Linked DNA regions of Homo sapiens. The protein of the gene in region 1 interacts with the protein of each later gene in a pairwise test. Each region holds a gene or a part of one and is shown in the gene's direction. Other genes may lie near its edges.

What was found.
Region 2: the proteins of RAB11FIP4 (region 1) and RAB11FIP5 interact in a two-hybrid assay, tested with the Homo sapiens proteins (one study listed by BioGRID).

Annotation. Positions count from the first base shown.
Region 1 is NC_000017.11:31,384,607-31,396,242, forward strand, and holds the start of RAB11FIP4 (rab11 family-interacting protein 4), read left to right. Parts: upstream 1-7,068; 5' UTR 7,069-7,246; coding exon 7,247-7,405; intron 7,406-11,636. UniProt on the Homo sapiens protein: Acts as a regulator of endocytic traffic by participating in membrane delivery. Required for the abscission step in cytokinesis, possibly by acting as an 'address tag' delivering recycling endosome membranes to the cleavage furrow during late cytokinesis.
Region 2 is NC_000002.12:73,108,521-73,120,124, reverse strand, and holds the start of RAB11FIP5 (rab11 family-interacting protein 5), read left to right. Parts: upstream 1-7,176; 5' UTR 7,177-7,347; coding exon 7,348-7,778; intron 7,779-11,604. UniProt on the Homo sapiens protein: Rab effector involved in protein trafficking from apical recycling endosomes to the apical plasma membrane. Involved in insulin granule exocytosis. May regulate V-ATPase intracellular transport in response to extracellular acidosis.

The DNA of each region.
Region 1 (11,636 bases):
AGCTGGGTTTGTTTTCCTTCCTTAGGGGAGTATCAGCATAACTAGTTTAGAGTGGTGCAGGTGAACTGCTGTCAACTCCGTAGGCCAACCCTAAACCTTCACTGTTATTTTATAACTTCTACTCAACAGCTTGCAACCTTTCAAGGTTAACAAGGTTGATGGGGAATGGTCCTTGCTCTCAAGAAGCTCGTAGGCGGCCAGGCACTGTGGCTTATGCCTGTAATCCCAGCATTTTGGGAAGCTGAGGCAGGTGGATCACCTGAGGTCAAGAGTTCAAGACCAGCCTGGCCAACATGGTGAAACCCCATCTCTACTGCAAATACAAAAAATTAGTAGCCGGGCGTGGTGGCTCACGCCTGTAATCCCAACACTTTGGTAGGCCGAGGCGAGTGGATCACCTGAGGTCGGGAGTTCGGGACCAGCCTGACCAACACGGAGAAACCCTGTCTCTACTAAAAGTACAAAATTAGCCAGGGATGGTGGCATGTGCCTGTAATCCCAGCTATTTGGGAGGCTAAGGCACAAGAATCGCTTTGAACCTGGGAGACAGAGGTTGCAGTGAGCTGAGATCGCACCATTGCACTCCCGCCTGGGCAACAAGAGCGAAACTCCATCTAAAAAAAAAAAAAAAAAAAAAAAAAAAAAGCCAGGCATGGTGACAGGCACCTTGTAATCCCAGCTACTCGGGAGGCTGAGGCAGGAGAATCGCTTGAACACTGCAGAGGTTGCAGTGAGCTGAGGTCACGCCATTGCACTGCAGCCTAGGCAACGAGAGTGAGACTCCATCTCAAAAAAAAAAGAAATACATGGTGAAGGATGTGCACATTTAACTATAATTCAGTCATTTTCCTCACCTCTTTTGGCTTCCAGGCACCTGTTCCCGCTCCTCCTATGGCTCTGACAGCACTTCCTTCACCTGCCTCTTAACTCTCGGCTCTTGACCCTGTGTCTGTTTTCCTAATCTTGGAATGATCCCATCATCCCTGAGAAGACATCTGGGCGCCCTGGCCAGGGGAGACAGCTGATGGGCAGAGCATCCCTGTGTGTGCATCACGAACACACTGTAGAGTCTGCAAAGTTCTGTGAGGGCAGAGCAGTAAGGGCAGCTGACTCAGGGAAGGCTTCTTGGAGGGGGTGGCATTTGAAGGATGGCAGTGGGGGTGGTGGAGGGAGGACAATCCAGGCAGAGGGAACAGCATATGCAAGGCAAGCCAGGCATTTCACTGATCAATTCCATGTTGAGTCACTGTCTTGGAGTCTATGCCACACAATGCCTGGGATATAGTAAGTGCTCAATAAATGTAAACTGAGTATAGTAGATGATGTTACTGCCCAGCCATGTTTTACAGAATGGAGAGCATCAGGCTGTAAAGGGCCTTCCTGCTTGCCGCTCACCCTGAGGATTGAGTTTTTCTTTTAGGCAGAAGTGGGCAGTAGAGAAGGCTCAAAGCCAGGGAATGTGAGTGGATTTGACTCACCAAGGACACTGCTTCCTAAGCCAGGAGGGAAATATTGGTGCCCTGCCTGGAAGTTAGTTTCAGGGGCCATTTCTGCAGCTGACAGAAGGATCTGGAGCCCAGTTGGGTAGAATAAGTTAGGTTTTGGCATTTCTTCTTAGAATCCCGGAAGGAATTTTAGCAATCAGCCGGTCCTGCTTCTAAGGGTCAGAGAAGATTCTGGATACCCCTCACATCAACAGCTCATGCAGCAGAGGAAAGATGAGGTCTCAAGGTGCCCCCCTGCACCCCAAGTGTGCCCTAGTCCAGCCAGGGTCCTCAGCACTCCACAGGCAGGGCTGGCTGTGTCTCCAAGCAGGGGCCTCTCTGCTTTTGCTCACAGAAACATATTCTGGGATCAGTGAAGAAGGAAAATAAGTTCACGGCACCTTCTTCCCCTTCAAAGTGATAATTATTCATGGGTTTAAAAAAACCCAGCAGGTTGTGAACAGGAAGTAACTGAATCCTGCCCCATTTCCAGACAACATGGACAATGAAGTCAAGGCTCACAGATGAAAATACAGAAATGTTCCCCCTTTTAGACTGGTTCTAAACTGCTCCATACTGACACACATAATCACCACCCAGGTGCCAGGTACTGTGCCAAGCGCTGGGCGAGGCATGACGCAATCTTTTTTAAATTAAAAGCCTGAAGGACCTCTACAAGGTAGAAAAACTGAAGCTTAGAGAAATTAACCTGACCAGAGTCATGGGGCTAAAAGAGCAACAGATGTTGGTGCCCAGCTCAGCTGTTTTGAATTCCAAAGCCTGGCTCTTCATAATCTTTGATAACTTCCACATGATATTCATCCCATCTGTATTCATTTCTCATGGCTGCTGTGCTAGCTCCCACAAACTTGGTGGCTTAAAACACCAGAAATTTATTCTGTAACAGTTCTGGAGGCCAGAAGGCCAAAATCCAGGCATCAGCAGGGCTGTGGGCCCTTCAGAGGCTCTGGGAGGGATTCTGCTCCTTGCCTCTTCTGATGGCTGCTGTTGCTCCTTGGCTTATGGCTGCACCACTCCAATCTCTGCCTCTGTGGTCACATTACCCTCTCTTTATGTGTCAAATCTGCCTCTGATCCATCCTATAGATATGTGTGATTGCATTAAGGGTCCACCTAGCTAACCCAGAATAACCCCCCTGTCTCCAGATCCTGTTGTTTTTTTTGTTGTTAGTTTTTTTTTTGTTTTTTTTTTTTTTGGAGGCAGGGTCTCACTCTTGTCACCCAGGCTGGACTGTAGTGGCATGATCTGGGCTCACGGCAACCTCCACCTCCTTGGCTCAAGCCATCCTCCTGCCTCAGCCTCCTGAGTAGTTGAGACTACAGATACATGCCACGATGCCCAACTAATTTTTGTATTTTTTAGTAGAGACAGGATTTCATCACATTGCCTAGGCTGGTCTCGAATTACTGGACTGAAGCAATCTGCCTGCCTCAGCCTCCCAAAGTGCTAGGATTACAGGCGTGAGCCACCACGCCCAGCCTCCAGATCCTTAATTACATCTGCAAAGACCCTTTTTCTAATGAGGTAACATTTACAGCAGGGGTCCCAACGCCCAGACTGCAGACCATTACCAGTTCATGGCCTGTTAGGAACCACAGCAGGAGGTGAGCGCCGGGTGAGTGGGCATTACCGCCTGAGCTCCACCTTCCGTCAGATCAGTGGCATTAGATTCTCATAGAAGCGGGAACCCTATTGTGAATGGCGCAGGAGGGGGATCTAGGTTGCGCACCCCTTATGAGAATCTGAAGCCTGATGATCTAAGTTGGAACAGTTTCATCCCAAGACCCTCTTCCCCCGACTTGTATGAAACCAGTCCCTGGTGCCAAAAAAGGTTGGGGACCACTGATGTACAGGGATTGGAATATAGATATCATTTAAGGGGGCATTTTTCAGCCTACCATGCCATATTTGTCCATTCCTTAATTTATTCCTACACAGACCCTAACTATGTGTGTATGGGCATTATTTAGGAGCTACAGAAATCAGGAGAGAAATAGACACAGTCCCTGCTCCCAGGGACCTCATGGTCACTCCTGTGACCTTTCATACAGTTTCCCAGATAATCCGGTGATAGACAATAGGAGTAAGATGGTAAGGATAGTCACAAGGACAATAGCTGTCACTAACCAGCAGCACTGTTCTGACACTTACAATGTATGTATTAACTTACTGACTCTCACCACAGCCTTATCCATACCTGTAAGTGGGCTGCAGTCTGTACTTTTCACTTCTCTGCAGGAGCACATGGGAGAGGTGGTCAAGGTGGGCAAGGAGTGGGGTGGTCATGAAAGGCTTCCGGTAGGAAGTGCCACTTCCACAACACAAGGACAGGAATTAGAGAAAGTGGAATTGGGTGGGGGTAGGATTGAGACCTCCCACCCACTAAGCAAAGGGAGGCAGGAGGGAGCCTGGATGCTCCCAGACTAGGGTTAAGGAGAGGCAGGAGAGTATGAAGACACTGCACAATGCCAGCTCAGGCAATGGTGGCCATTGAGTTTTCAGCAGGGGAGGGACCTGATCAAACTTGTTTCTTCCTAGAGAAGGGGCCGGAGTCCCAACTGTCCCTTCCATGTATATTTCCCAGTATATTTCCAGCCTGCCCAGGCTGCTGCAGCTGTTGGAAATCCCCTGGAGAATCAGAGGTCACCTGGAGGAAGCGGAGGACAGAAAGGAGGCTCCGCGCCTTCCCGCCCTATCCATGGGGACCTCTTGCTTTCCTGGAGCAACCCCCTTCACCCTGCAGCCGGCCCTGACATGGGTATTCTCTTGCTGCTTCTGCTCGGGGCTGCACTCTGAGCTCTTGGATCAGGGTTTTGGGAGCCCTAGTGGTCCCAGGTCCACTTCCAAGGACCCAAGGACTCCATAAATTGCACCATCTCTGAGGGACCTTTGGGTAGGCACTCAGCCATTTCTGCAGGCCCTCTTGGGCTCCTAGAGCCTGGCACCTCAGTGTAGATCACACTGGGCCATGACTGCCCCCATCAAGTTCAGCAAGTGGCTGCACCCCTTTCACTGTCTCCCTAGCATACCCAACACAACGTAGGTGCTCAACAAAAACGTGACAACCCCAGAAAGAATGCCTGTGACGTGCTTTGCTGGCCCCAGCAGCACAGCGGTGAGCAAGAGACCCAGTGCCACTGGTGGGGGAGGCAGGTGTCCTTCAAACCATCGCCCACCAGAGACAAAACTGCAGAGACCTGGGCAAGGAGAGTCCGGTCAGGGAAAGCTCTCCTGGGGGATTTTTGAATTTGTGATGATCCTGTCTTTGACAAGAACTGGCTAATCTGGTTGCGGGATTCTGTCTTGGTTCACTTGGGATTTGTTCATGCTCAGGTCTGAGGTCCCCGCCTCTGCCAGCTGAAGTGGGTGAGTCTTCCAGCTCCCCTGTCCCCAGTTAGGGGGCATTCAATGCCAGGCTGAGCGCGGAGAGCCATTTCTGCAGCCCCCACCAGGGGGCAGCCCCAGCTCCTGGCCATCTCCTTTCTGTGCTGAGCCCCTTGGGTGAGAGAAAATGGCACGAGCTGACCTTGGACGAACTAATATCGGGGTCCCAGGGGCAGGCAGCAGCCCCCAGCTTCCACTCCCTACCTCCTTGCCAGGGGGCTGGCTGGATCTCCAGCAGCCAGTCTCTCCCAGCCAGCTGCTTGTCCTTATTCTCCACTTCCACCTCCATTTTGCAGGGTAGGTCGGGGGAAAGCAGCATTGCTTAGATTCGCTCTCATCTTCAGTTGCCCTAAAAGGAAGGTACTATTATCCTCACGGTACAGGCGAGGAAACCGGCTAAAATATGCTAGTATCCTGCTGAGCGGCATCCAGCTAGCAGAGACGCTCCTACTCAGCCGAATACCCCTACTCCACTCCCACGGCCTCCCCTTTCCCGCTTTCTCACATTTCGGACTCCTCAATCCTCAGAACCACAGGTCTCTCTTCCCAAGAGGTGTTGCCTTTCGTGGCTCTCAGACGAACTGAAGGGTCAAAGGAGAGTAGCTAAAAGCCAGGTTCATCCCAGGAGCCGGGGCTGGAAAGAAGAGGTCCCCGCCCACTGTCAGAAGGCAAATGGCAGTCCCTGCGCAGGATATATTCAGGGTTGAGCAGGAAGACCACAGAGGTACAAACCGAGGCCCAGCTAGGGGAGGCCATGCAGTTCACCCCGTACTCCCTGTCTGCGCCACTACGTTGCTCCCGGCTCCTCACATAATGGGCGGGCCCATCCCCTCTGGGTGGGGCTTCCTCTGGGCCCACTCTTGCCTGGAGATCAGGGACTTGAAGGTAATTAAGACATATCTTGCCCTGGAGGGCTTCCCAGCATGGTAGGGGAAATGGGCATCCCACTAGAGAATTAAGAATTAACTGGGCACCTGGAAGAAGGGCTTAGAACTCAGAATAGAAGATAAGATGGCGTGCCATCAGAGAAGCCTTCCCGGAGGAGGAAACCTCTGTGCTGAGCATGACAGCATAGGTGGGAGTAGACTCAGCCAAGGCCTTTTTTTGGGTTGGGGCCAGTCGTTGCCACAAAGACCTGATGTGCCGAGCAAGAAGGTGGAGAGAAGAGCCCGGCCGGGTCCTGCAGGGCCCCGAGGCTGGGCTGGGAAGTTAGCACAAGCTGGGGTGGAGGCTCCGCTGAGCACTAATGGGAGGAGGCCAGGGTCCTGACCTAGAGCCTGCGGCCAGCGGGACAGAGATTCTGTCCTGGATTCTCTGAGCTTGGGGCATGCGGGCTGCCAGGGAGGTGTGATGGTGGGAACCCGGCGAAAGGGAGGAAGCCTCTTCCAGGCGTGGAGCAGCCTTGGGCCCTGAACAGGCAGGCCTCTGGAAGCGCCTCGCTTTTCCTCCCTCCGGCCTCATCCTGGTTTTCTCCTCATCTCCCCGTCGCAGGGTCCCGGGTCCAGGCTGGGGTTCAGTTGCCTGCTCCTCCTCTCTGTGCCCTCCCCCGCCCGATGGCCCCACAAGTGCTGTCTTGCAGGAGAGCGCCGGGAGACCGCAGGGCGGAGGTGAAGAACGGAGTCCAGAGCCCTCCAGAGATGGCAGCGAATCCCGGCCCTGCCTCTTGCCAGCTGTGTGGCCTAGAGTGAGTCCGACCTCTCTGGGCCTCAGCTTCCTCCGGGATGAATGCAGTCACGGAACGCGCCAATGCAGGAGGCCCCCAGGACATCCTGAGCGCTCGGGAGACGCCAGGCGCGGCAGCGGGCACGGATAGCGGAAAGGGGCGCGACCCCGCGGAATCCTCCGGCAGGGCAGGGCCTTTGGGTGGCTCCGGGTGTCCAGAGGAAGGGGTGGGCTCGGGGACGCGGAGGGAAACTGGGGACGCGGAGGGAAACTGAGGTCGCGGAGGACGCGGCCGTTGGCAGCTCGCTGCGCCTGCCGGCCCCGCGTGGGCCGCCCCACTCGGGAGGACGCGGGCTCCTTTTGTCTGCAGCGTCCCCGCCGCCGCCGCCCCCGCCGCCTCCCCCTCTCCCTCCCATTTTCGCCGCGGCCCCCGCCCCTCCCCTCCCCGCCCCCTATTGCCCCTCCTCCTTCCCCTCCCCACTCTTCTCCTTCCCTCCCCTCCCCTCCCTTCCCCTCCGGAGCGGCTGGGGCTGCGGCGCCGCTGCTGACACGGATCGGCCGCGGCCGCCACCGGGCGGAGGCTGCGCGGCGCAGACCCAGACGGGCGGCCCCGGAGGGCGCGCGGCGATGGCGGCGGCGGGCAGGCGGCGGGCGCGGCGGGCGAGGGGTCCGGGCTGAGCTGCGGGCCGGCCCGGATGGCGGGCGGCGCGGGCTGGTCGGGCGCCCCCGCGGCTCTGCTGCGCTCCGTGCGCCGCCTGCGCGAGGTGTTCGAGGTGTGCGGCCGCGACCCCGACGGCTTCCTGCGCGTGGAGCGCGTCGCGGCGCTCGGACTGCGCTTCGGCCAGGGCGAGGAGGTAAGCTGGCCCGACCCCAGTCCCGGCCCGGGGACCCCAGCCCAGCCCCGCCGCCCCTCCCCCAGCTCCCCCGCCGGGTCACCCGCGTGGCCCGAGGCGGTGGCCTCCCTCCCAATCCCCTCCCTCCGCCGGAGCCCAGGACCTCGGCCCCCCCCGGGTATCCCTGGCCCAGCCGGGCCCTCGCTTTCCGCCCCCCGGCGCCCGTGCCCCGAGCGTCACGCGTCACGCCTAGGGTGGCTTCTGCGCCCACCTTCCTTCCTCGGCCATGCAGGTCCTTCTGAGCGGTCTGCACATCCACCCTTGTCTGGGGGAGAGAGCTGCCAGAATCCGGCCCTAGGCTCCCCACCCCACCCGGCGCTGCGGAGACCAAGATGCAAGGGTCTGTGTACGTCCTGCTGGGCCGGGCCAGGGGGTGAAAGGGACCGGTAGGGGTGCTCTGCAGCCTTGGCTCCTCGGCTGCACACACCCTGCCCAGACACGGAAGGAGGTGTCTGCTGGGGCCACCGTGTACTCCCGGGCCAGTGTCGGGTGACCTCTCATTCAGGCTCTGCTGGGCAGCCAGGCTGGCAGCTGGCTGTGTTGGTTGCAGCAGGCCAGGCAAAGCCAGGCTCGGGGAGTGGTGGCTGAGCAGAGGGCTTTCATGTGGCGGGGCCGCATCTATTTGGGGAAAGCAGGACTTACGTAGATTGTTAACAGGGCTGGAAGCGGAGGGTCGGTGCCGCCAGTAGGGTGGACGGAGTCATATCACTAAACGCACACTACACCAGTGTCCTCTGGTGCCACCGGCATGGGGACTGGGGACTGTGTCTCAAGGGGAGGACAAGACACCCACCTGGCTGAAATGGTCAGGGGTTTCCCCTGGAGCCAAAAGCCCTGAGAAGTGGGTTTCCAAGGCCATCTAAGGCCTCAGGCCCTGCATGGGGGGCCTGGGGCCATGGGCCTCAAATGGGCACTGGCTGGCATTGTGTTCCCAGAACAGGTCGGACCAGGCATTTCAGAACATGGGAGAAGCTGGGTGATGGCCAGGTTGGGCCCGTGCCTCTGCGTCACCAGAGAGTGGGAGGCGATTGAGAATCATCTCTCCACCCGCACCTGGGCATGGGCCGGGACTTGTGAGTCGCTGAGAGCTGTGGGCAGAAGAGAGTGAGGCAGCTTCAGGGCTTGAGAACTCAGGTACCCACCACAGGAAAGACCACTGCAGTGCCTGTGAGAGCCCAGACTGCCCTCTGCGGGGCTTTGCTGAGGGACACTGCCTGCTGCCACCATGACCCTTCTTCCCCAAAGGCCAGCCAAGCCCTTCCGTTTTTCCAGTGGCTCCCATCTGGGGCAGGCTGAGCAGACTCCTGGCATGGGGATAGTCGCGCTCCTTCCTCTCAGAACACAGACTGCAGGTCGGGTAAAGAAGCTACCAGCTCTGGCTGAAACCTGGAGTCCCCGAACTCAGAGCCTCAGTAGTGGGAAGGGCCTCCCAACAACCTCTGGCAGGGGCCACCGGCCTCAGCCACGTGCCCAGCAAGCCTCACCCACTTCTCCCCCAGCTGGACAGTTCCTGCCATTAGAACCTTCTCCCTCATACACTCTAGAGACAGACCTGCTTGTCACTTAGTCATCACCGTTCTGCACGGGGACTCACATAGGTCTCTCTTCTTTGGGGGAGCCTTTAAATATTTGAAAATAGCACTCCTGCCCCTTCTCTCCTTCCCAGCTCCATACTCCCATTTTCCCTTCTCCAGGCCAAATACCCCAGTTCCTGAAGCCCTAGGCCATTTCCATGTGACCCAGTAGCCAGACCTCTGGCTTCTGGCCTTGGAGCTGCCATCGACTAATTCTGTGATTCAGTTTTCCTAGCAATAACATGAAAGGGCTGGACAAGCAGACCGCCCCCCGCCGCCCCCACCAGGACTATATTAGCCCCAAGACCTCACACATATGCACACAGCTTAGGGTGGGGCTGCCTCTGAATGGGGCACTGCACTCTGCTTATATTAAGTTTCTGGCCACCGAAACCTCCAGGGATCTGTTTTAGAAACCTCTGCCAAGCCAGGGATTCTCCACCCTTCGGGGAGGGTCAGTGATTTTTTTCTTTTAAAAGCATACTCTGAGATTACTACAGAAGCGGTGGATATGCATTGCAGAAAACTGGAAATAGGGACAAGCAAAATAAAAAGTATTGTGTCCTATCTCTCAGGCAGCGCCTCAATGACACTTCTGTCAGACCTTTCCAGAGCTGTTTCCATGCTTATATGTCAATTTTCTCCAGAAAATGAGATCATACTGTGCATACTGTTTTGTAACCTGATTTTTTTTGCCGGTAAATGATCATGACTTTTCTGCTTCAATAAATTTTCATCTGGTTTAATATGCAGACCTTTTTCAGATTTCCCTATTTGACCCCAAAATGTCCATTTTTGCTGTTTCCTCTCCAGGACTGTGCAGTGTATGTGGTTGTTGTCACCTTTTAGTCTCTCTTACTGTACACAATTCCTTTTTCTTTTCTTTTCTTTTCTTTTTTCTTTTAACAATCCTGGCTTGTGGAAGCATTCGGGCCTGTTGTCTGTCAGTAATTTCTGGAATCTAAGCCTGTTTCTTGGCCCTTATTCCCATTTAATTTCGTCTTGTTCATTTCATCACATTGTATCTGTCAAGAAAGAGAATCTAGCATCCTACCTCTATCACTCTCAGCTGTGCTGCTGCCTGCGGGCTGGAGAAGCAGTGCTTGGTGTGTCTGAATCCACAAGGCTGGTTAAACATTGCAGGGCAGGACCATGGACAGGGCCCCGAGGCACTTGTAGGGGTGGTTTTCGGCTTATGCTGTATTGACCGAGACCCGTGGAAATATATTTTGCATCTCTACTCACTACCCATCTTATCCCCTGATGCATTAAAAAATCGGAGTGTTGTTTTCCAGCGGTGGGGTGGCGGGGGGCGGGGGGGGGGGGCTCCCTTACGAAATGCAGTGTACTCTGACTGTTTCTATTTTATTTGTTTTAAAATCAGGCAGTGACATTGATTTCCCAGCCACTTGTGCTCTGGGATGGATAATGATCATTCATTAGATATGTAGTTCAGTGAACTTAGAGCTGATTGTCCACAGTTTACCACCTACCCCCAGAATACCAGGGATACCAGGATCAAATGCTTTGCAAAAACCAAAATATACTAGGTCATAAAGTATGAAATAAATATCCATGAGGCCATAATGAAATATATATATGTATAAATTATTGAACAGATGATAATAAATAAATAGGAAAATCTCTCGTATAGAAGAAATCTGAATAACGTATGTTGATAATTGCCCCATTGAGGAAGTGAAGCATAACGTCCCACCGTGTAAGCATGAGATGTGCGTAGTGGCTTCCTTATAAAGGGTAGAGTTTGGAAAGTGGGGGGAACAGCAACTGTATAGTGGAGAAACCCAACAAACACTGTCTCAGAAGGTGATCAAGGACAACATCGATAGTGACAGATTGTGATGATGGCATACACCCTTGGTGTGATGTGGTGAGAATAGAACTTTTCCTCTGTGGTCTTCCTCCCAAACCAGTAATCCCAGTCTAGTCCTGAGAAAAATGCCAGACAAATCCCATCCGAGAGGCATTCTACAAAATGCCTGATTAGGACCTCTCAAAATTGTCAAGGTCATCCAAAACAAGGAAATTTTGAGACACTGTCAGAGCCAAGTGGAGACTAAGGAGGCAGCTGACTAAATGCAGTGTGGTGTCCTGGATGGGACCCTAGAATCAAGAAGAGGACATTAGGTAAAAACTAAGGAAGTCAGGATCAAGTATGAATGTTACTTAATAATGTTATTTATGGATTAGGTTAGTCCCTGATAGTTCCCTACTTTGTTGACCTAGGTATCACAGCAGAAAAGAGGAGACAATGGGCCGGGCGTGGTGGCTCATGCCGGTAATCCTAACACTTTGGGAGGCTGAGGTGGGAGGATCACTGGAGCTCAGGAGTTCCACACCAGCCTGGGTAACATGGTGAGACCCCCCATCTCTACAAAAAATACAAAAATTAGCCCGGTGTAGTGGCGTGCACCTGTAATCCCAGCTAGTTGGGAGACTGAGGCAGGAGAATCGCTTCAACCTGGGAGGCGGAGGTTGCAGTGAGCTGAGATTACATCGCTGCACTCTAGCCTGGGTGACAGAGTGAGACCCTGCCACAAAAAAAAAAAAAAGAAAAGAAAAGAAAAGAAAAGAAAGAAATGCAGATTTTTGAGGGA
Region 2 (11,604 bases), on another chromosome or scaffold:
TCCCATTTTGACTTGTACCCTGAACAATTGTTTTGCTCTGAGATGCTGTTAATCTGTAACTTTGCCCCAGCCACTTTGCCCCAACCTTGAGCTCACAAAAACATGTGTTGTATGGAATCCAGGTTTAAGGGATTTAGGGCTCTGCAGGATGTGCCTTGTTAACAAAATGTTTACAAGCAGTATGCTTGGTAAAATTCATCGCCATTCTCTAGTCTCGATAAACCACGGGCACAATGCATTGCGGAAAGCCGCAGGGACCTCTGCCCTGGAAAGCTGGGTATTGTCTAAGGTTTCTCTCCATGTGATAGTCTGAAATATGGCCTCGTGGGTGAGAAAGACCTGACCGTCCCCCAGCCCGACACCCGTAAAGGGTCTCTGCTGAGGTGGATTAGTAAAAGAGGAAAGCCTCTTGCAGTTGAGATAGAGGAAGGCCACTGTCTCCTGCCTGCCCCTGGGAACTGAATGTCTCGGTGTAAAGCCCGATTGTACATTTGTTCAGTTCTGAGATAGGAGAAAAACCACCCTATGGCGGGAGGCGAGACATGTTGGCAGCAATGCTGCTTTGTTATTCTTTACTCCACTGAGATGTTTGGGCGGAGAGAAACATAAATCTGGCCTACGTGCACATCCAGGCATAGTACCTCCCCTTGAACTTAATTATGACATAGATTCTTTAGCTCACATGTTTTTTTTCTGACCTTCTCTCTATTATCACCCTGTTCTCCTACCACATTCCTCTTGCTGAGATAATGAAAATAATAATCAATAAATACGGAGGGAACTCAGAGACTGGTGCCGGTGCAGGTCCTTGGTATGCTGAGCGCCAGTCCCCTGGGCCCGCTTTTCTTTCTCTATACTTTGTGTCTTATTTCTTTTCTCAGTCTCTCGTCCCACCTGATGAGATATACCCACAGGTGTGGAGGGGCAGGCCACCCCTTCACTACAAATATATATATAAACTTATATGATAAACCCAATGGCTAAGGGATAGGGCTTTGCAATAAATATTGGGAAACTTGGATAGCTGTTGGGGGAAAGCAGGTTAGATATTTACCTGAAATCATTCATCAAAATGGTTGCTAGCAGGATTTAAAGAGAATAAAAGAACAAACAAAAATCCAAACAACTTAAAAACTTGAAAAAATCCAAATGAATATTGTTGGACCTGTAAGTTTGGAAGAACTCAAGCTTAAAACAATGGAAAGAATTCAAAGATTTGATTATCTAATTTTATTTATTTATTTAGACAGGGCCTGAGCTCTGTCACTCAGGCTGGAGTGTAGTGGTGTGATAATGGCTCACTGAAGCCAGGACGTCCCGGGCTCAAGCAATCCTCCTGCCTCAGACCTACTCCAACCCCCTCAGTGGTCAGGACTACAGGCGTGCATTAGCACACCTAGCTAATTTAAAAATAATTTTTAAAAAGAGACAGGGTCTTGCTACGTTGTCCAGGCTGGTCTAGAACTCCTGGGCTCACAAGTAATCTTCTTGCCTCGGCCTCCCAAAGTGCTAGGGTTACAGGCATAAGCCATTGCACTCAGCCTACCTAATGTCTTATATCGAAAACATATCCAGGCTGGGAGCAGTGGCTAAAACCTGTAATCCCAACACTTTGGTAGTCTGAGGGGGGTGGATCACCTGAGGTCAGGAGTTTGAGACCAGCCTAACCAACATGGCAAAACCCTGTTTCTACTAAAAATACAAAAATCAGCCGGATGTGGTGGTGCACACTATAGTCCTAGCTACTGGGGAGGTTGAGGCAGGAGAATCGCTTGAACCCGAGAGGTGAAGGTTGCAGTGAGCTGAGATTGTGCCACTGCACTCCAGTCTGGGTGTCAGAGCAAGGCTCTGTCTCAAAAAAAAAATTAAATTAAATTAAAAAAAGAAAACCTGCAGTAAATATGAACAACAAAGTGTTACTATTCTTTTTCTTTTTTTTTTTTTTTTTGAGATGGAGTCTCGCTGTCTCCCAGGCTGGAGTGCAGTGGCACGATCTTGGCTCACTGCAAGCTCCGCCTTCCGGGTTCACACCATTCTCCTGCCTCAGCCTCCTGAGTAGCTGGGACTACAGGCGCCCGCCACCGCGCCCGGCTAATTTTTTCGTATTTTTAGTAGAGACAGGGTTTCACCGTATTAGCCAGGATGGTCTCGATCTCCTGACCTTGTGATCCGCCCACCTACGGCCTCCCAATGTGCTGGGATTACAGGCATAAGCCACCGTGCCCGGCCTTCTTTTTCTTTTTCTTTTGAGACAGGGCCTCATTCTGATGCCCAGGCTGAGGTGCAGTGACATGATCACAGTTTGTTGCAACCTCGACTTCCCAAGCTCAGGTGATCCTCCCACCTCAGTAGGCATGTGCCACCACACCCAGCTAATTTTTGTATTTTTTTTTTTAGAGATAGGGTTTCACCATGTTGGCCAGGCTGATCTCAAACTCCTGGACTCAAGCAATCCTGCCTCCTCAGCCCCTTAAAGTGCTGGGATTACAGGCATGAGTCACTGTGCCTGGCCATGTTACTATTCTTAACATATAAAGCATTTGTATAAATAATAAGAAATTAAGGCTTCAAAGAAAAACAAGCATAGAAAATAGGCAATTCAGAAAATAGACAATTCATTAAAGAAGGAAATACAAATGACTAATAACTGAAAAGAAGTTCAATCTCTCTGGCAATCAAAGAAATGCAAATGAAACAACAAGGAGGCAGAAGCTTTTGCCTTCAGCAAAGAGTTCTAAGATGATAATTCATGCTCATTACTGCTTAGGGTGTATTGAGATAGCTCTCATACTAACCCTATGAGGTAATTTCTTATTAGCAGGCCCATTTTACAGAGGTGGAAACAGACTCAGTAGGGTTCAGTAATTTGCCCATGCTTATACAGTTAGTAAGTGGTGGCACCAGGGCTTAGACCTGGGCATGTGGTTCTGCTATAAAGAGGGCCTGGAAAATAGCTGCAGGAAGGTGAGGTGAAGAACAGAGGGAAATGTAGCTGGAAGAGCAGGACAAATACATGTGAAGTGTCTACATGGAAAAGCAAATGGGCTTAGTGGTACTGAAGAGGGGGCAATGAGTGGAAGCTACACATAGGTGGATGCTTTTCAAGCAAGAACTGTCTCCAATGGACTAGAGAGGCCCAGGAAGGCAGTGAGGACACCCAGCCCTGGGGAGGCAGAGGAAACTGATGCTTTTGGGGTCTTCTTGTCTAACTCTTATGCAGGCTGCTGCAGGGAGTGGGGGGGATCTCATCTTATAGAGGAGGAAACACACCTTTAGATGGCCAAGACCTCAGTATCTGGTGTTTCTGCTCTTTTCTCAACCACAGACAGCTAGCAGACCTGGCTTTTCCTTCTAGGGCCAGGCAACGTGGGGTGGGAGCCCTGGCTGGTTTCGTTCCCCTCCTATAGCCAGCCACAGTCCAGAGCCAGCAGGAAGCTTGAGCTTGCCAATCTGTGAGGGCCAAGGCAGGAGGAAAGAGAGCCAGAGGGCAGGTGAGGCAGAGGAGCCATCTGAGTGCTCTCCACCTTTTCCCCTTTCCTGGTGCTTTGCTCCTCCTTGGCGGAGGAGGAGGGAGGGAGGAGGTAGGAGCAGTAACGTTGGAGAACAGGCAAACAGATGAAACAGACCCGCTGAAGGAGTGACACATTTATGTTAGTTGAAGTTTAGTGATGATATCGTCACTTGCAAAGTCCTTGAAGAATTCACTCTTAAAGTGGGAGGTTCATCCTGACTCTTGTAACCTTGGTTGCCTCAATCTTCGTCTGTAAAATGGGTATGAGAACACTTCCTTCTTTATTGACTTTAAATGGATCTAGTGCTTGGCTGACCAACAAGCTGGTGTGAGAGCAGAGTACCACAGCCAGTAGAGCCACTCAGTCTCTACAATTTTCCGGTTGGAGACTTGGGGAAAATCACCCAAGCTCTTCCTGCTTCTGTTTCCTCATCAGTGAAACCAAGGGTAGCACTTGCTTTAAATGGTTATCTTCAGGGTTAAACATGACTATGTGTGTGTGTGTGTGTGTGTGTGTAAGTATTATATGTATATACTTTTTCTTTAGTATACAGACTTATAGCCAAGAGTGATAATATATATAAAGTAATGGTAGAACCAGGACTCCAAAGCCCACAGATTTAATAATTATACTTTAGATGTCTCAAAAACCATAATGTATATAAAACAAACACATACAGTATAAAGACTAGAAAGAAACACAACAAATTATTAACAGTGTTTATTTATGGATGGTTGCGTTATGATTTATTTCCATTTTTTCTTTTTTTGAGAGAGAGTCTCACTCTGTTGCACAGGCTGGAGTGCAGTGGTGCGATGTTGGCTAACTGCAACCTCTGTCTCCCAGGTTCAAGTGATTCTTGTGCCTCAGCCTCCTGAGTAGCTGGGATTACAGGTGTGCCCCACCATGCCCTGCTAATTTTCATAGTTTCAGAAGAGACGGGGTTTCACTATGTTGGTCAGGCAGGTCTGGAACTCCTGACCTCAAGTGATCCATCCGCCTCGGCCTCCCAAAGTGCTGGGATTACAGGCATGAGCCACCAGGCCTGGCCCCATTTTTTATTTTTTTGAGACAAAGTCTCATTCTGTCGCCCAGGCTGGAGTGTAGCAGCACAATCTTGGCTCACTGCAACCTCTGCCTCCCAGGTTCAAGTGATCCTTGTGCCTCAGCCTCCCAAGTAGCTGGGACTACAGGTGCCCACCACCACGCCAGGGGAATTTTTTGTCTTTGTAGTAGAGGTGGGGTTTCACCATGTTGCCCAGGCTGGTCTTGAACTCCTGGCTTCAAGTGATCCACCAGCCTGGGCCTCCTAAAGTGCTGGGATTACAGGTGTGAGCCACTCCGCCTGGCTTGAGGTAAGAATCATTATCCCATTATCCAAATGGAGAAATAAGGCCAAGAGAGGTTAGAGAGTTGGCTTAAACTTCAGGTTTCATAGCTACTAAGAGGCAGATGGCCAATATCTGTAGGCAGATCTGGCTGTCTCTAAAGCTAGGTGCTATCGTCAGGGTTGCTGGACCATGGGGCTGGTGCCTAGGACTTCCCCACTCCAGTCTTCTGATGGAAGAGTTAAGGTGGGAGGCTGTGAGGACTGGGCCTGTGCTGGGTGTGCTATCATGGGTCTCCTCTGCCTACTCTACTGGTTTCCTAGGTTCATATTCCCAGTAGAGGACATGGCCTGGAAGGTGGACAGTTGAGGGGTACTGTGGAGTCTCCCTAAGAAGAAATACATGTTTCTCCTGTTGGGTATCCTATAGAGCACTGGTTCCCCACCTTTTTGACACCAGGGACCAAAATGTAAGTTTCCACAGACTGAGGGTGGCAGGGATGGTTTCAGGATGATTCAAGTGCATTACATTTACTGTGCACTTTATTTCTCTTATCATTACATTGTAATATATAATGAAGCAATTATATGACTCACCATAATGTAGAATCAGTGGGAGCCCTGACCTTGTTTTCCTGCAACCAGATGGTCCCATCTGGGGATGGGAGACAGTGACAGATCATCAGGCATTAGATTCTCATAAGGAGTATGCAACCTAGATCCCTCGCATGCACAGTTCACAATAGGGTTTGTGCTCCTAGGAGAATTTAATGCCACAGCTGATCTGACAGGAGGTGGAGCTCAGGCGGTAATGCGATAGGAAGCGGCTGTAAATACAGATGAAGTTTCACCAGCTAGCCCCTACCACCACTCACCTCCTACTGTGCAGCCCAGTTCCTAACAGGACATGGAGGGTTACCAGTCTGTGGCCCAAGGGTTGGGGACCCCTGCTATAGAGGAACTAAAAATAATAGCATAACTACACAAGATTGAGGGATGGAAGTGGGTGTGAGCCAGCTAAATCATTATCTATCATAGGAGGAAGGCAACAGACAGTGGCCAGTCCTGATAAATGCAGATGTAGCTATGTGAGCATCTTAATGTAGTGATGTGGAGGTAACCATCAGACCTGAAAACACCAGTGGCTTTAAGCAGCATCCCTGGATTGAAGGATGGAGAGGGAGTTCTTGCTTTTCATTGCAAGCCATTCTGTCCTATTTGATTTTTTTAAAAAAGCTGTGTGTATTATTTTTAAATTATTATTTTAAAAGTACAGGCTCTGAAAGTTAAAAAAAAAAAAAACGCTCTGGGGGCATCTAGTGGATTCACAACCCTCCCCCATCTGAGCTGACATTTTATCTTCTGGAAAATAGGGATAAAAGCCATACTCACCCCACAGAGTTGCTCTGAGGATAAAATGAGGTAATGCATATAAAAGCGCACTGACCAGAGTTGGCTGAAATTCAGCATCTATAATTACTAAACATCGTTATTATCAATAATAAACCAAGTATACGTTAATACTTAGGCCCTGGCACACAGTAGGCACTTAATAATGGGTGGAAGTAGTTATTTAACCCCCCACCAGGGCCTGTAATTTCCCCCAACCCGTGACACACTGGCCCCAAGGCTCCGAGTGAACACTTAAATATTGATGTGGTTACTCATTTATTCATCACTCGGCTCTCCGCCGCAGAGTCTGAGGAGGGTGAGCCCCGCTCTCGGGCCTCCCGCGCCGCCGCATGGCCGCATCCCGGCCCCCTGCGCCGGGAGAGATTGGAGGCGGCGGCAGCTCACCCGCTTCCAGGTCGCCGATGCGGGACCGTCACGTGGCGGGGCGGCAATCGCTCCAGTTTCACTCCGGCATTTTCCCCCGCAGGGGCGGACTGGAGGAGGGGAGAGCGCGGCCCGGGGTCAGGGGAGCGGCGGGGGTCCCCATCACCCCAAGTCCGCGCCAAGAGGCTGGCCATCCCAGGAACTGCGGGCCGGGACCCTTTTACGGAGAGGGCTTTCCGGAGCAGGGACTTTTAGAAGGAAGACGTGGGATTGGCCTGGAGGCGCAGAGCGGGTTTTTCGTACCTGGCCGCGGGTGTAGGGCTCCCCACAAGCGAGGCCGGGTTGCTTCGGGCGCCCCCAGCCAGGGGCGGGGCCACCGCGGGAACTCCGCCCACCCTCTGCAGAGGCCGCGCACCGCCCCTTCCCGCTCCGGGCTGGTCTGCGGCTGCCGGGGCGCGAGCTGCGTGCCCGCATCCCTGTCGCACCGCCTCGCCGGTTGGGGCGGCGGGCGCGGGGCGGGGCAGGGGGCGGGGCGCTGACGTCGCGGCGCGGCCCGCGGCCAGCGGCCCGGTGAGGCGGGGAGGCGGCGGCCGGTCGGCCCGGCCCAGCCCAGCCCGCAGCTGCGGCGGCGCTCAGAGTTGGTTCCTGACCGCCTTCTGCCGCGGCCGGGTTTGTCACCAGGTCCTGGGGTCTGCACCGGCTCGGCCAGACCTCGCCCCCCGCTTCTCCGCCATGGCCCTGGTGCGGGGCGCGGAGCCGGCGGCGGGGCCTTCCCGCTGGCTGCCCACGCACGTCCAGGTGACGGTGCTGCGGGCCCGCGGGCTGCGGGGCAAGAGCTCGGGAGCGGGCAGCACCAGCGACGCGTACACGGTGATCCAGGTGGGCCGCGAGAAGTACAGTACGTCGGTGGTGGAGAAGACGCACGGCTGCCCCGAGTGGCGTGAGGAGTGCTCCTTCGAGCTGCCGCCGGGGGCCCTGGATGGCCTGCTGCGGGCGCAGGAGGCCGACGCGGGCCCGGCGCCCTGGGCCGCGAGCTCCGCCGCCGCCTGCGAGCTGGTGCTCACCACCATGCACCGCTCGCTCATCGGCGTCGACAAGTTCCTGGGCCAGGCCACGGTGGCGCTGGACGAGGTCTTCGGCGCAGGCCGCGCCCAGCACACGCAGTGAGTAGGGGGCGCGGGGGCACAGAAACGGCTAAAGGCCTAACAGGGCGGGGCTGGTGGGGGATCAGGACCCCGAACTTCAGCCGGGCCAGTGAGCCCTTGCCTCGTGCTTAAGGGCGTAAACCGACAGAAACGTTGGTTCTTCGCATTTCGGGGTCGTCTTCAAGCTTCCCAAACGTGCGCTGTGTGGGGCTCAGCCACTGGTGGTCCCTGGGAGGCCTGGGGGAGGTTTAAGTGGTGGCGAACGTTAGGAGTAGATTGTCAAGTAAAGTTAGGAATGAGATTCAGAGGCTTTGGGGCTATGGAAACCTCAAGAAGGGAAATCTTGGGGCCGTTCTTAGAACCTCCGGGCCTGCCTCCCTTTCCTCAAAGGGGAGGGGAACTGCGGGCGCCTGTCCGGCAGGGGAGTGGAGAGGCGCAGCCTTGCCCTACGGGGGAAGGAAAGCCAGGTGTCTTCCTCCAGGGCGAGGTTGAATGTTGATTACCCCGCTAAACGTAGAAGCTGGCTGCAGGGGGCATCTGCCTCTTGCTCTCAAGATGCCCTCCACTATCTAGAGATGTCACCCCCCCACCCCCATCCTGTCCCTCTGTGTCCTGTGTCCCTGGTCTGAGGATAGGAGGAGCTTCTAAGTTAAGGAAGGAAACACTTGAGTCAGCCTTCCAGTGGCCTGCCTGCCTGCCCTGCCCTGCCTGAGGTAGAGGCAGCGGCATGGTTAATGAACAGCAGGAGATTATCTCCCGGTCACTTCCACCTCAGTGGGCCAGGGTTTTTTTAAATCATTTATTTTGGCAGCATTTAACCTTGCCTGTGTTAAGATCAAGGCTTCAGCCTTGGAGCCCCATTTCCTGTTTTGGGCTTGGGCAGGAGCTGGAAGCCAGTCCCCGGGGCTGACAGCCTGCTGTGGATCACTCAAGTGGTTAACTTGGGAGTGATCTGGGTAGGAGGGTAAGGGGATTGGGGCAGGACTGTGCCTTAGGTCAGGAGAGGTGCCGGAAAGGTTTGCCCCAGTGGAATGGCATCCACTGAGTGAATAAATCCAGGAAGGCTTGCTGGAGGAGGGGGATGAGCCTGGTGCAAACCCAAATGAAAGCAGGATTTAGGTAAAAAGGATCTGACCTTGAATGTTTTCTGAAACATGGGTGTGGAATGACTTTCCTGGCTGGCTCTCTGTGGTCTGGGATGGGGAGGGCGTTAGTGCAGGTTCCAGGCATGGCTGTGACCTGACTCCATTTCCCCATCCCCTGGCCTGCTCCCCGCCTTCCTTCATGACTTGCTGTTTGGTGGCAGGGTGTGGGATCATGTGGTATATAGCTTGGACCTTGTTTTTTTCCTCCTTTCTGTCCTCTCCCTCCTTCCTGGTTCCTGGAGCCCAAGGGGGTGGGTATATGGGGCGAAAAGCTCTCTCCTGGATCTCTTAGCCCATTCTTTTTCAGAAGAGGTGCCTATCCCCCAAATCATTCCACCCCTTCCCCCAGTCCTTCACCCTCCACCAATCAGCTACTCTGACCAGACTGTTAGATGACACATCTGTTCAGGGGGTGCTGGGGGAACAGGAGGAGGCAGACCAAAAAAAGGCTCCAGGCCTGCAGGGAGCAGCTTCTTTGATTGTTTTTTCCAGTTCCTGCCCTTGCTTTCCTCTTGGCCTCTGGATCTTCCTTAGCTGAGCTGGCCAAGCTTGTAGGTCCAGGTGGACCCATTTTCAGCCAAGAACAGCCTGTCTTGGAGAATTTGACTTACCACCCCTTGATCTGAATGGGAACCTTAATTTATTTTATAGAAATCATCTTTTCCACCAGGATCTTTCCACACCCACCTGGCTGTTTTCTCTGATGCAACAACCTGGTTTATTTATAGAACCGGGGGGGGAACAGGAGTGGGGAGGGTCACTTAGGATGGGCAGAGGAAAGTCTGTGAAGTTGGCCTGGTGCTCTAGTTTACTGGACCTAACAGCATGCCCACTGACAGAGGGGGAGGGCTGTCACCCCCGCTGTGGTCCCCACCTCTGGCTGTAGTGGTCATTCCTGGTGGTATTTCCTGGAGCACCCTGGTGTGGGCTACCAAGACTGAGTCTGAACGCTGCCTGGTAGGGAGAGGGCAAGGCAGAGAAGACCAGGGTGTACCCTCCTCAGCTTTGGATAATGGTGGAAATGAAAAGTATCCATTCTTTAACTCCAGGAGTTGGCTGTGGTGGTCTCAGGTAGGGCAGGTGGTGGCCCTTTGCCAAGAGAGGACCTGACTGGGGAAGGTACCCTTATGGTTAGGAAGGGGCTACAGAGTGGCACTGGACAGATCCCAGTCCCAAAACTGCCACCTGTGGCAAGTCATATAAACTCTTGGTGCCTCAGTTTTCACGTCTGTAAAATGGAGATAATTTATACCTTCATATGGTTGATGTGAGGGATGAAATGAAAATGCAGCTTAAGCACCTAGTACAGTCCCTGTACATGGTAGGTGGTCAGTGCAGAGCAGTGATGGTGAAGGGAGATTTTAGTAACAATGTCTGGAAGAGCTTCTTATGGGATGGGGGAGACAGTCTAGAACTTAGAGCCTAGGAAAGCCTTAGGACCATGGGTGACGGAGTACACAGAAGAGTACGAGAGTTCCCAACAAAATGAGCTGGCCCTTTGCAGCTCTCTGTATTCTATTTGCTGCAAGAGGCCCAAGAAATAGGGCTGGGCTTGAGAGGCCTCTGCAGTCCTGAAACCAGGCTCAGATAAGCCCGCAGCTCTGCAGCTCTCCTCCCTGGCAGCCCTGCCTGGAGCTGCCCCTGCCCTGTTGGGAAGGAAGGATGGCCCAGGGCTTAAAAACCTGGAGACTGGGATTTCACTCCCCGTTCTGTGACTTACCAGCAGACAGGTTACTTATCCCACTTCCTCACTTTGAAAAAGGTCATGATAATAATCATAGAGTTGTACAGATTAGATAAGACACCATCTGTAAAAGCCTTAATGTAGTTCTGGATACATAGAAGCTCTCAAAATATTAGCGTGGTGGTGACTCTGGGGCCCCATTTTGTGTGATGGTGGTGGCTGGGGTTGTAGGTGCTTCAGCAGCCTCCGAAGGTCTTGTGTGAGTGGGGCAGTCTTTGAAATGAGGAATTTCACCAGAGGCTTCCAAATAATTGAAGAGGATATTCTCAAAACAAAATGTAATGGTAGTACACAAGGAAACTAATGATCTCCCCACCCTCAGTAGAACTGTCCATGGATCGTCATGTTCCTGTTGGTCTGGAAATCCTGGATGCTTCTCTGCGATTTATTTTCTGGTTTTTATCTTCAACATCCTTTTTTTTTTCTTTTTTGAGACAGTGTCTCACTCTGTTGCCCAAGTTGGAGTGCAGTGGCAGAATCTGGGCTCACTTGCAATCTCTCCCTCCCAGGTTCAAGCGATTCTCCTGCCTCAGTCCCCTGAGTAGCTGGGATTACAGGCATGTGCCACCACACCCAGCTAATTTTTGTATTTTTAGTAGAGACTGGGTTTTGCCATGTTGGCCAGGCTGTTCTCAAACTCCTGACCTCAGGTGATCCACCTGTCTTGGCCTCCCAAAGTGCTGGGATTACAGGCATGAGCCACCACGCCTGGCCCAACGTCCTTCTTAGCACTCCCCAGTGGGTGTCCTGTGTTTGCCTCCCTAACTCCCAAGACAGGGATGGGATGTGGTGGTTAGTTAGTTTTCCTTGTTCCCTGTGGGGTCAGATGGGTCATTTGGACCTTTTTGGTCTTTATGCGATTGGTGTGGATCACACCCCCAGGGAATGGACCTGGATATATCAGAAGAGGGAAGGAAGGAAGCAGCAGCAAAGGTTTTGGAGTAAGAAGACAGGG